3 separate regions of the Homo sapiens genome follow, and all the other regions are linked to region 3. Evidence: fine-mapped expression QTL. A gene starts in region 3. Each other region holds a variant in brackets. All regions are shown on one strand. Distances are from middle to middle. Region 1 holds the start of LOC124902112 (a long non-coding RNA gene). Region 2 has its middle 20 kb from the start of RCL1. Region 3 holds the start of AK3 (adenylate kinase 3).

What was found. PIP is the estimated chance that this variant, and not a neighbour inherited with it, causes the effect.
Region 1: its variant is the best candidate, but not a certain one, in a credible set for the expression of AK3 in whole blood (TOPMed, PIP 0.88).
Region 2: its variant is the best candidate, but not a certain one, in a credible set for the expression of AK3 in cerebellum (GTEx, PIP 0.64).

What each region holds. Positions count from the first base shown.
Region 1 is chr9:4,714,993-4,719,233 of GRCh38, reverse strand. AK3 (adenylate kinase 3) reads left to right here. Exons shown (of 5, transcript NM_016282.4): 3 at 1-99; 4 at 697-815. It overlaps LOC124902112 (a long non-coding RNA gene), which reads left to right and starts at 822. Exons shown (of 2, transcript XR_007061401.1): 1 at 822-978; 2 at 1,952-2,160. The variant C/T (reference allele first, on the strand shown) is at 2,077.
Region 2 is chr9:4,770,884-4,775,124 of GRCh38, reverse strand. No RefSeq gene overlaps it. Among named protein-coding and RNA genes, the nearest start is that of RCL1, 20 kb to the left of the region's middle. The variant A/C (reference allele first, on the strand shown) is at 2,045.
Region 3 is chr9:4,738,692-4,742,932 of GRCh38, reverse strand. It overlaps AK3 (adenylate kinase 3), which reads left to right and starts at 1,731. Exons shown (of 5, transcript NM_016282.4): 1 at 1,731-1,996. The coding sequence starts at 1,846. RefSeq lists silencers at 1,342-1,831, 2,062-2,201.

The DNA of each region.
Region 1 (4,241 bases), 24 kb after region 3:
GTGCCCTTTGAGGTCATTAAACAACGCCTTACTGCTCGCTGGATTCATCCCGCCAGTGGCCGAGTCTATAACATTGAATTCAACCCTCCCAAAACTGTGGTGAGTAGTTGTTGTGGAACTGTCACATAGCAGACTGTCCCTGAGTCCTCTTGCCCTAACAGACATAAGTTGAGTGAACTTGGAAATCCTCTGACCAAAACTCCTGAGGGTATATTCTCAGGTTACTTGGTAGAGTTGACTGATCAAGTCCACTGAGCTTGGTGCGAAAGGTTGCCCCAGGAGCAGCAGGGGTTTGTTACTCATTCAAAAACATTTGTTGATTTCCTGCTCTGCCAAGGAGTGTGTTAGGAGTTGCGCTGATAGAGATTCATAACACCTTGGTTTATTTAGGACTTGCAGTTGAAATTCCAAGTTTATAGCTGAATCTTTTTGAATATATATGAACTTACTTAGAGGCTGCTTAGAAAACCTTTTACTCTAAGGCTAAAGTGACTGATAACTGTAGAAATGAAACTGGCGTACCCTGTTTCTGTTGCGATGATCTCTTTTGAGGTTGGATTCCATTTTTTTAAAAGTTAGCACATTTTTGTGCTTGGCACTTGCACAGAGATGTCTGTTTAAAAATAATTGAACTGCTTATGAAAATATCTTTCAGAAATATGATATCTGATACTAGTCTCTTCTAATCCTGTTTAGGGCATTGATGACCTGACTGGGGAGCCTCTCATTCAGCGTGAGGATGATAAACCAGAGACGGTTATCAAGAGACTAAAGGCTTATGAAGACCAAACAAAGCCAGTCCTGGAATATTACCAGTGAGTTTTTGCTTTTCAGAACTTCTCTTGCGTAGTGGTGCACTAAGTCTAGTTTTGATTTTCCTTCCTCTACAGCTGAAATGCTAAAATGCCAAAAGACCCAGTTCACATGGGCTTAAGTAATAAAGGAAATACATTAGCTTGTGTAACAGAAGTCCAGAAGGTAGGTTGGGCTTCAGTCACACCTGGGTTTGATCAGTGTAGCCGTTCTCTTGGTTTTGCCTTCCTGTGTGTGTATTGGCTTTGTCCTTAGGCTTCCTGCATGGTAGCAGACATTTGTAGGAACAGCCAGGGCTTCCTCTTCTATGAAGGGCTGAGGGGTAACCTTTCCTCCAGTGAATAGAAGCCCAGAGCACCACTCGGATGGAGCCAACTTGAACTACAGTCAGGGAATGCCTGGCACTAACTGTTACAGGCTTGGGTTACTGCCTACTGCAGAACCAGTCATTGGGGTGGGAAGGATTCCACTGATTACACTGACTAGTCCACTTCTAGAGTTGGCAGTGCGACAGTCTCATCCATACTCTGCTATGTGCAGATGTTCCGCAATTTACAATGAAATTACATCCTAATAAATCCATTGTAATTTGAAAATACCAAGCACCATAACTTAGCCTGCCTTAAACATGCTCAGAACACTTAGATTAGCCTACAGTTGGGCGAAATCATCTAACACAAAGCCTGTTTTGTAATAAAGTGTTGAATATCTCACATAATTTACTGAATATTGTACTGAAATTGAAAAGCAGGATGGTTGTACAGGTGCTCGAGGTACAATTTCTATTGAATGCATGTTGCTTTCGCACCATCATAAAGCTGAAAAATCCTGCATTGAATAATTGTAAGCTGGGGATTGTCGGTAGGGGAGGCAGGGCTGGAATGAATGCTGGGGAGGCAAACTTAATATTGCCCACCACATTTGCCAATACAGGATGCTATGGTGTGGAAGAATCTCAGATGGCAGCTAATCCCTCAGACTATGTAATTGGCTAGCAGTCTTTAAAAGCTTACATTTTAACATTGTTTTGTCTGCTCTTGTTTTGTCTGCAACACGTATAGGAACCGTACTGAATGAGTATTTGACTTAGGCTAAGAAATACTCCAGTTTTCTTACTGAGCCTTCCTGCTTCTTACAGAGGATTGACTGCCTCCCCTTTCATTTATGTACTTATTGAATACTGATCCTGATCAGGGCAGAACAGTATCTTGGGCAGAACACAGACTCTGGAGCCAGAATACCTAAGTTCAAGTCCCAGCTCAC[C/T]ATCTTCACCTTCACCTTCTGCTTAACCTCTGCCTGTTTTTTCCTCTGTAAATTGGGGAAGAGAATAAAGGTTTGAAAGATTAATATGGGTAACTCTTAGAACTGGGCCTGACGCATAGAAAGCACTATAGAAATGTTAGCTATTGTTATTGTTGTTGTAATAGCGTATGTATGCAGTAGAAATCTGAAGCAATAGTTTCCAAACTGTTATTTATTTATTTATTTTAGAGACAGGGTCTCACTCTGTCACCCAGGTTGGAGTGCAGTGGTTCTTTCATAGTTCACTACAGCCTTGAATTCCTGGGCTCAAGCAATTCTCCTGTCTCAGCCTCCCAAGTAGCCAGGACTATAGGCCCGTGCCACCAGACCTGGCCAATTAAAAAAATTTTTTTTAGAGCTGGGGCTCTTGCCATGTTGCACGGGCTACTCAAACTCCTGGCTTCAGGCAACCCTCCTGCCTCGGCCTCCCAAAACATTGGGATTACAGGTACGAGCCACCATGCCTGGCCTTTCAAACCATCTTAATTTTTTCTGGAGCATAAAATTACAAGGTTGGCAAACCATTTTTTGTAGTAGCTGTTACTATAATTTTGTCATTTGTTTAATGAGGCTGGTTCTGAAAATTACCGTCTCTTTTGCCCTAGGCAAGCTATTTAACCTCCATGCCACAAATCCCTTATTTGTAAAATCAGGCAATATTAAATAGCATCTGCTTTATAGGGTTGTTAAAAGAATTAAGTGAGAGATCCTGGAAAGTCCTACAACAGCCCTGGTGTCTATTAAATCATTCATTGTCAGCAATTATTGTTCACTCTCTTGACACTGTGCTAGGCCCTTGGTCCACATGGACAATTAGATCCAGTCCCTGTCAGGCTCCAAGAAGCTATGTTTGTGGGTGAGGTGGGGAGCTGGGTAAACAGTATTTATCATACAATATGATATGTGCTTATATTAACTAAGAACCTAATTCACACCAGGTTAAGCAAAAGGGGAATTTATTGGTAATGTAACTGAAAAGTCAAAGATAGATGGATGGGTCCAGGTGTTCAAAAACACCTATCATCAGGCGTCAGTCACTCCGCTCCATTGTCCTGTGCTGGCTTCAGTCTCAGGTGTGCCCTCCCTGTGTAGCAGCCCCTCAGCTTTCCAGTTTACCTCCTACCAGCCAGAAACCCCAGCAGCAAAGAGCCTCTTTTGCCAGCAAAAGTCTTGGGGTCGGCACCGATTAGCTCTGATCATGTCCATCCTTGAAGATGGGGAGTGGGGACAGTCTCTCCTGAACCTCGTCGACTGAGTTTGGTGGAGAGGTTATTTCCCAAAGGTAACCAGAGGAAGGGAGAATGCATTGTTGCTGGGCAGATAACACCACCACTGCAAGGCTATGAATGATAATCCCCCAAAGCAGTGAAGTACCAGGGGTTGTTGGGATTCGTTCTGTCAAAATATCAAAATATGGGAAGGGGCCTGGGACAGTGGCTCATGCCTGTAATCCCAGCACTTTGGGAGGCTAAGGCAGGAGGATCGAAAAGGCAGGAATTCAAGATCAGCCTGGGCAACATGGTGAAACTCTGTCTCTACAAAACATAAAAAAAAATATTAGCCAGGCATGGTGGCACATGCCTATAGTCCCAGCTACTGGGGAGTCTGAGGTAAGAAGATTGCTTGGACCCAGTGGGTCAAGACTGCAGTGATCTATGATTGCTCCACTGCAGTCTAGAGCGCGGGTGTCAGAGTGAGACCCTGTCTTAAAAAAAAAAAAAAAAAAAGTAGTAAGGGAAGTTAAGGAAAGCTGCGAAGATGAAGTGAAAGACACGGGCCCCTGTCTTAGGAGATATTTTAGAAGTCTTTCTAGGCTCCTTCTGGCTTTTGCTGCCTTTTGCTGTTAATTCAAGCTTTTCTTTTCTTTTTCTTTCCTTCTTTCTTTTTTTTTTTTTTTTTTTTGAGACGGAGTCTCACTCTCTCTCAGGTTGGAGTGCAGTGGTGCCATCCCAGCTCACTGCAGCCTCCTCATCCCAGGTTCAAGCGATTCTTATGCCTCAGCCTCCCCAGTAGCTAGGACTACAGGCACGTGCCACCATGTCCTGCTAATTTTTGTATTTTTAGTAGAGACGGGGTTTCGCCATGTTGGCCAGGCTGGTCTTGAACTCCTGACCTCAAGTGATCCA
Region 2 (4,241 bases), 32 kb before region 3:
CCTAATGCTAAATGACGAGTTAATGGGTGCAGCACACCAACATGGCACATGTATACATATGTAACAAACCTGCACATTGTGCACATGTACCCTAAAACTTAAAGTATAATAATAATAATAATAAAACAAAGAAAGAAAAAAAAAGTTCTACTCACATCTAAGTTTTTCTCTCTTTTTTTTTTTTTTTTATTTGAGACAGAGTGTCGCTCTGTTGCCCAGGCTAGAGGGTAGTGGCGCGATCTTGGCCCACTGCAACCTCCACCTCCTGGGTTTAAGTCATTCTCCTGCCTCAGCCTCGCAAGTAGCTGGGATTACAGGCGCCTGCCACCATGCCTGGCTAATTTTTTTGTATTTGTAGTAGAGATGGGGTGTCACCATGTTGGCCAGGCTGGTTTCAAACTCCTGACTCAAGTGATCTGCCCACCTCGGCCTCCCAAAGTGCTGGGATTACAGATGTGAGGCACCGCACCCGGCTCACATCTAAATTTTTAAAAATTATAAATTATATGCTATTTATAATATAAATATTTTTATTTGCCCATTAAAATAAGGCCTATGCACTATGTTGCCTATCCAATCCTAGGTGTGACTATGTGTTTTGCTTTGGCCAATGAAATGTGAGCAGAAGTTACTTGTGTCACTTTCATGCTGAAGCTCCTCTTTTCCTTTGTCATGGCAACCAGTATTTTTCCAGTAGCTGCTCCATCAGCCTGGGTCTTGGAGTAGGAACCACTATGTTGCAACAATCAACTCCCCAAGGACAAGCAGCCAGAGTGAGAAATGAACCGAGGTGGTTTCAAGCTACTGAAATTTGGTGGTTGCTTGTTAGTGTAACATAACCTAGCCTATCTTGACTGATAAAGCAAAGAGTCTTTAATTTGGCTCTATATTATGGAGACCCCAGGTTTTGATGCAATTGAAGACATTGGAAACGTATTATCTTTGAAACAGCACAGAGGTACTAAACGATTACTCTGTAACTGAGAGAAAAACATGTATGATCTATGGAATTAATATCAGCTTACAGGTCAATTAAGTTGTTAATTATTCATGGAATCATAGGTTTTCAGGGCTTGAGGGATCTTGGAGATGACCAAGCCCAATACTCTGTCCAACACACAGCTCCCCTATACACCACACCCAGAGCATGGTCTTCTAGGGTCTTATTGTAAACCCCCATGGATTGACAGCTTATGCCACGTGAGGCATTGTGGTCCATTTCCTGATAACTCTGTTTAAACATGCTTTTTTGCATGGCAAGTTGACTTCTTTCTTCCTCATATTGCAATGCTTTGGTTATGGGAGCAAACTTAACCCCTCATGCAATAAAGCCCTAATATGCCACCTTCTCATCCTAGTGAAATATACCCGGTTTTGTACACTATTCCTCAATGTCATTCCAGACCATTGTCTTTCCCAGTCATTGACCTGGGGTCCACCTGTAAGTCTGGTAGACCATTCTTCAGTACAATAAAAAAGACTCTGCGAGGCTGAGCGCAGTGGCTCATGCCTGTAATCTCAGCACTTTGGGAGGCCGAGGCGGGTGGATCATGAGGTCAGGAGATCGAGACCATCCTGCCTAACACGGTGAAACCCCGTCTCTACTAAAAATACAAAAAAATTAGCCGGGCGTGGTGGCGGGTGCCTGTAACCCCAGCTACTCAGGAAGCTGAGGCAGGAGAATCGCTTGGACCGGGAGGTGGAGGTTGCAGTGAGCCCGAGATTGTGCCACTGCACTCCAGCCTCGGTGACAGAGTGAGACTCTGTCTCAAAAAAAAAAAAAAAAAGTCTCTGCATTTGGCATGCACTGTTCTCTACTCCCCTTCCTTGTCATATCCCCAACTCCACCACATCCCAAACTGGTTGCTGGTAAAATAGAAGCCCTAGCACAGTAAAGCAAACCCATAAAAAACACCTTTCATGTGACAGTTGTCTAAGAAATCAAAGCCACATCAAGAAGAATGGCTAATATTTAGGTCTGGAACTGTAATAATTTAAAAAAGGACAATTCCCTGAATTTTCCCTTCAGGGAGAAGTATTGGAA[A/C]AATGGATTTATTGCATAATTCCAGCCGAATTAGTTTTGGGACCAAAGCAGTCTGAAACCAGAAAAGGGAAACTAGCTGCAATGAATTCCAGGAAATATCAACATGTGTGTACTTCTTAGAGGGAAATTTCCAGGGATTTCTGGGAACATTTTGTAGCTTCGGTGCTTACATATGTTTAGTGTACGTAAGGCAAAAGCTTAACCCAAAGATATTCAGAAATTGACACAGTGAGTCTTTTCTTTTTCTTAAAAAAAGTGTCCTATTTTTTCCTGATTTATAAAAATACTACATTATCATAGAAAGTTTAGAAAACACAGAAAAATATACAAAAGTAGAAATTAAATCAGGGCAAATACTCTTACAATAAATTCTTTGTATTATCCAATAGATAATGGTATACTTATTAATGATCATGTTTGATGTAAAAAAAATAATAATAATGGAGCCAGGTGCAGTGGCACAAACCTATAGTACCAGCTACTCAGGAGGCAGAGGCAGTAGGGTTGCTTGAGCCCAGGAATTCAATGCTGTAATGCACTATGGTCATACCTGTGAGTAGACACTACACTCCAGCCTGGGCAACACTGTGGGGCCCCATTTCTAAAAATAAAAATTTTTAAAACTAGGTTGAAAATTACTTTGGTTGTGTTCTTAAATTCTGTTGAACAGAATTTAGGATTCTTAGAAATTTAACTCTCTTCTTCCTGCTGGAATTATAGAATCTATGTTAATTTCTTGACCTTACAAACAAGGAAATCAGTAATAATAAACTCCGTGATTGTTCCATTGCTGACCAAAATGTCAAAAAATGTTTCCAGCTAGGCTTTTTTCAGCAGCCCATAGAAAATATTTATGGTCATTTCAAACTCAACATGTTTAAAAACTGAGTTCATCTTCCACTCAAATTTGAGGTTCTTCCCAGTCATGCCATTTTTCGGAAGAGACAGGTAATGCTATTTTTCTGGCCCACCAGATTCACAACATCAATGCATCTCTCTCTCTTCTTATCAATATATTCAAGGGCCTGGTGTGGTGGCTTATACCTGTAATCCCAGCACTTTGGGAGGCCAAGGCAGGAGGATCACTTGAAGCCAGGAGTGGAGACCAGCCTGGGCAACATAGCAAGACCCCATCTCTACAAAAAAAATTACAAATTAGTAGGAAATGGCAGTGTGCACCTGTAGTCCCAGTAACTTGAGAGACTGAGACAGGAGGATAACTTGAGCCCAGGAGTTAGAGGTAGTAGTAAGTTATGATCATGCCATTGCACTCCAGCCTGGGTGGCAGAGTAAGACCTTGTCTCTGAATAAACAAACAAACAAATAAGTCATATTAAAGAAGATAGCAATTCTTTTTTTAGGAGGGGGACAGAGTCTCGTTCTGTCACCCAGGCTGGAGTGCAATGATGCGATCTCGGCTCACTGCAACTTCTGTCTCCCGGGTTCAAGGGTTTATCTTGCCTCAGCCTCCTGAGTAGCTGGGGCTACAGGCGTGGGATACCATGCCTAATTTTTTTTTGAGACGGAGTTTTGCTCTGTCGCCCAGGCGCCCAGGCTAGAGTGCAGTGGCGTGATCTCAGCTCACTGCAGGCTCCGCCTCCTGGGTTCACGCCGTTCTCCTGCCTCAGCCTCCTGAGTAGCTGGGACTACAGGCGCCCGCCACCATGCACGGCTAATTTTTTGTATTTTTTTTTTTAGTGGAGATGGGGTTTCACCATGTTAGCCAGGATAGTCTCAAACTCCTGACCTCAAGTGATCCACCCACCTCGGCCTCCCAAAGTGCTGGGATTACAGGCATGAGCCACTGCACCCGGCCAAAGAAGATAGCAATTCTGTTGATTCTTCCTTTAAACCCTCTGTAGGATTCCAGCCCCTCCCTTTGAAATTTCATGTCACAACCTTAGGCCCTATCAACTGGGAAGCTATTAATAAAGGAGAACCAGAATTAATCTCCATCCAGCCGCCTTCATTATTCTTCCTAAAGTATCCTTATGTTTTCAGTCCTTTTTTTCTTTACAATGTGTGTTAGCTCCAAATTGCTTACTGACTCAAATCAAAACTCTTTGGCCTAATGCCATTCACCCAAAAACTATTGATTTAACTACTCTGTGCCAGGCACTGTGCTGGGCAGGAAGGATGCAATGGTGACCTTAACAGACAAGATTCCCTGCCTTGTGGTGCTACAATCTAGTGGGGA
Region 3 (4,241 bases):
AAACAAGACCCCGTCTCAAAGAAACAAAACGAGGCCGGGCGCGGTGGCTCACATCTGTAATCCCAGCACTTTGGAAGGCCAAGGCGGGTGGATCACCTGACGTCGGGAGTTTCAGACCAGTCTAAGCAACATGAAGGAACCCTGTCTCTGCTAAAAATATAAAATTAGCCGGGTGCGGTAGCGTGTGCCTGTAATCCCAGCTACTCGGGAGGCTGAGGCAGGAGAATCACTTGAACCCGGGAGGCAGAGGTTGCCGTGAGCCGATTGCACTCCAGCCTGGGCAACAAGAGCAAAACTCTGTCTCAAAGAAAAAAAAATGTACAAGGTATGTATTTTCTTTCTTTCTTTTCCACACCAGAAAGTATAAAGGCTAATGCCTTTTCTAAGTACCAGGCTGTCTACCTATTGAAATCCCCCATCCATTCACTCAGCTACGATTCACTGACTGTCTCACCCTGAAGTCATTTCTATCTTCTTTGAAATCAGTTCTGGACCTCTGAGGAGAATGGTAACTGTGTTTTATTTTCAGAGAGCCTTCTTTCTGCCTTAGCATAGTGTCCGGGACAAAGCAATGATGATAAATGGACAACCATTATTGAACATTGACCCCGTAGCTGGCATTGCACTAAGTACTACATTATTTTAACTCCTCCATTCTACTCCTCTATGCCCATTTTACAGGCAAAATGATACTCACTCGAACGTTTTTGTCCTCTGTTTCCATTCTTGAAACATGCCAAACCTCCAGTTTTAGGGCCTTTTCCTAAAACTGGACATAGGAAGGGCCCATGTCTCTCTCTTCCATATTCTAATTAAGCACTCAGCACACATGCCATCTCTTCAAAGCTTTTCCGACCGCCTATCTACAACAGCCTGCCTCCACAGTTTCACACACTCTTTTACGTTATTTATAAAAGAGTCTCACTCAATGGAAGCTGGATTTCCTCTCCTGTAAAATGAGGTAGGCCCTCTCGGCTCAAGGTCACTCCCTGTGATTCTACACAGAGAGGGAGTGGGAAGAGAGGGCGCTCGGCAGCAGAGGAGGAGGAGGAAGGAGGGAAGGGCGAAGGCGGGAGTGGGTGCAGAAGCGGGGGGTCTGGCGGTCCAGGGGGGTAGAAGGGAGGGGCGGATTCGAGTGGGCGCCAGGTGGAGGTGGGGCCAGGGTTGTCAAGGGAGCACGAAAGGGGTCGCGGTGTGTCCGGCAAGGACTGGGTAGGGCAGCGCCTGCTATGGACTAGGGGCGAGGGCTACGAAAGGGTTGTTGGAGGGGTGGATGCGGGTGGATCCCGAAACCAAGCGGCTCCGAGGGGCGACTAGAGGTGGGGAGGGGGCGCGCAGGAGTTGCCAAGGTCGGACAGAGGGGAGCGCGGTCTATCCGGCTGGGAATGGGCCGGACAGGGCGCGGGGTTCCGGGGTCGCGGAGAGGCGCGGAGGTAGATCTGAGCCGAGTGGAGGGCGCGTGGGGGTGGGTGCAGAGGGGCGCCGAAGGGATCCGGGCCCAGCGGCCGGTGGAGAGGGGCCGCGGAGAGGCGCAGGTGGGAGCTGGGCGGCCGAGCGAGCGCAGAGGGGGCGCGGCTTGCGCGGCTTGCGCGGCTGGGCGGGAACAGGCGCTCGGTCGGGGGCGGGGGGTGCGCCGGGGTAGCCGAGAGGCGGACGCAACAGCGGGGTCCCGCGCTGTCTGGGCGGCCCCAGGGGCTGTCGGCTCACTTCCGGGAACGCCGGGGAACCGCAGTAGCCGCCTGCTAGTGGCGCTGCTAGCCGGCCGGCGCAGGCTGCCGAGCGGGTGAGCGCGCAGGCCAGGCCAAAGCCCTGGTACCCGCGCGGTGCGGGCCTCAGTCTGCGGCCATGGGGGCGTCCGCGCGGCTGCTGCGAGCGGTGATCATGGGGGCCCCGGGCTCGGGCAAGGGCACCGTGTCGTCGCGCATCACTACACACTTCGAGCTGAAGCACCTCTCCAGCGGGGACCTGCTCCGGGACAACATGCTGCGGGGCACAGGTGGGAGCTCTGGGCCCAGGGCCGGCCGTGCGCTGTCACCCGGGTCGGACTTCGCGGGCGAGGGGCCGAAGCTGGGCACGCGGGTCCCTGGCTGCGGGCGCGGCATTTCCCTCCCGCCGCCCGGGACAGAGACCTCGGGCTGCTGAGCGACTGCGCCCCAAAACCTCCGGCCTCCGTGGGCCGCTTCGGGCGGGTTATGGGGTGGCGGTGGGGGAAGGGACTGGAAAGTTAGGTCGAGCTCGAAGTTCAGAGATGAAAGGAAACCACCGGGCTTTGTTTCAGAGGCCCAAGTCCTCCCAGTGGCAGCCACTCTTGGGGGTCCATCGAGCTGAGCCGCAGCTTGTTCAACGTGCTGGTGCCTTTGGAAGACTGTCATTAGCCCTGCTAGAGTCTGCTCGTTCTGTTTTGTTTTCTTTGTTTCTTTCTTTTCTCTTTCTTTTTTGGTGTGGTTAAGCTCTATGAGATCTTGTAGTTCTGACCTTTCCCCCATATTCCCAAGGCCAAGTATTATTTACCCTTGTTGCAGTCATAAAATTATCTCATTTTGATATCCTTAGATTTCGTAGACACGAAGGCTATTCTTGTGCATGGTTCTATAAAATATTTTGTTTCTCATGCCAAATAAATTCTTACAGCTCGGCACGAAAGGCAGTTAACAATCTACACTATACAATGGGTGAATTTGTGGTATGTAAATTCTCTCTTAAGAGGGTTGTTTTTGAAAAGCCAATCGCAGGAGTTTTTTTCTCAAAAAATGTTGACCTTACTTTTCAAAATAGAACCCGTTTTGAAACTCATTTTGAAACCCATTTACATAGAAATAATGCTTCCACAAGGCCTTTTTCTTTTGTTTTCCTTCTTTTTTTTTTTTTTTTTGTAAGGATAGCAAACAGGATAGACGTGCATAGCATAAAAAACAACGCCCTCTTTCGTTCCCTACCTCAGTCCCATTCTTCGGAGGGGAACAGAGTTTTCCTTCTAGAAAGGTTTACTTTTTAAGCGCAGATACGTGTACCTTTTTTCTTTTTTTCTTTTTGGTTTGTTTGTTTTTTGAGACGGAGTCTTGCTCTGTCTGCCTCCTGGGTTCAAGCAATTCTCCTGTCTCAGCCTCCCTAGTAGCTGGGACTACAGGCGCATGCCACCACGCCGGGCTAATTTTTTGTATTTTTAGTAGCGATGGGGTTTCACTGTGTTAGCCAGGCTGGTCCCCATCTCCTGACCTCGTGATCCACCCGGCTCGGCCTTCCAAAGTGCTCGGATTACAGGCGTGAGCCACCGCGCCCGGCCAACGTGTATCTTTTCTTGTATGTAATATGTGAGCATACTATGTGTATATACTCTGCACTAGTGTGGTTTCACTTTGTGTCTGGGATATATTTCACATGAAAACGGACAAATCCATTTCATTCTGTTTTTGTAGTATGTATTTTCTGAATCTAGTATGATTTATTTAACCAGTTCACACTTGTAATCCCAGCACTTTGTGAGGTCAAGGCGGGCGGATCACTTGACCTTAGCAGTTCTAGACCAGCCTGGGCTACTTGGTGAAACTGCGTCTCTATAAAAAATTCAAAAACAATTAGCGAGGCGCAGTGGCAGGCACCTGTGATCCTAGCTACTCGGGAGGCTGAGGAGAGAGAATCGCTTGAACCTGGGAGGCGGAGGTTGCTGTGAGTCGAGATTGCAACGCTGCACTCCAGCCTGAGCAAGACCCCATCTCGAAAAAAAAGAAAGAAAGAACAGAGATTGTTTGACTTGCTTGCTAAATGTTGTTAATGCGACATACTGAAGTAGTTAGGTAACATTAAACAGTCCCAGATACTGCTACTGGTTGGGGTCAGGTTAACCAAAGTCTAGGAGAGTAGGCCTGGCGCAATGGCTCATGCTTGTAATCCCAGCACTTTGGGGGCTGAGTCGGGCAGGTCACTTGAGGTCAGGAATTCAAGACCAGCCTAGGCAACATGACGAAACCCCCGTCTCTACCAAAAATACAAAAAATTAGCTGGGCATGGTGGCTCGCGCCTGTGGTCCCAGCTTCTCTGGAGGCTGAGGTGGGAGTATCACTTGAGCCCGGGATGCAGAGGTTGTCATGAGCCGAGATTGTGCTACTACACTCCAAGCTGGGTGACAGACAGAGTGATACCCTGTCTCAAAAAAAAAAAAAAAAAAAAAAAAGTAAAGCATATTTATTATAAAAGAAGGAAACTATATCTATTTCATGCAAATGTAAAAAAGGTAAATTAAG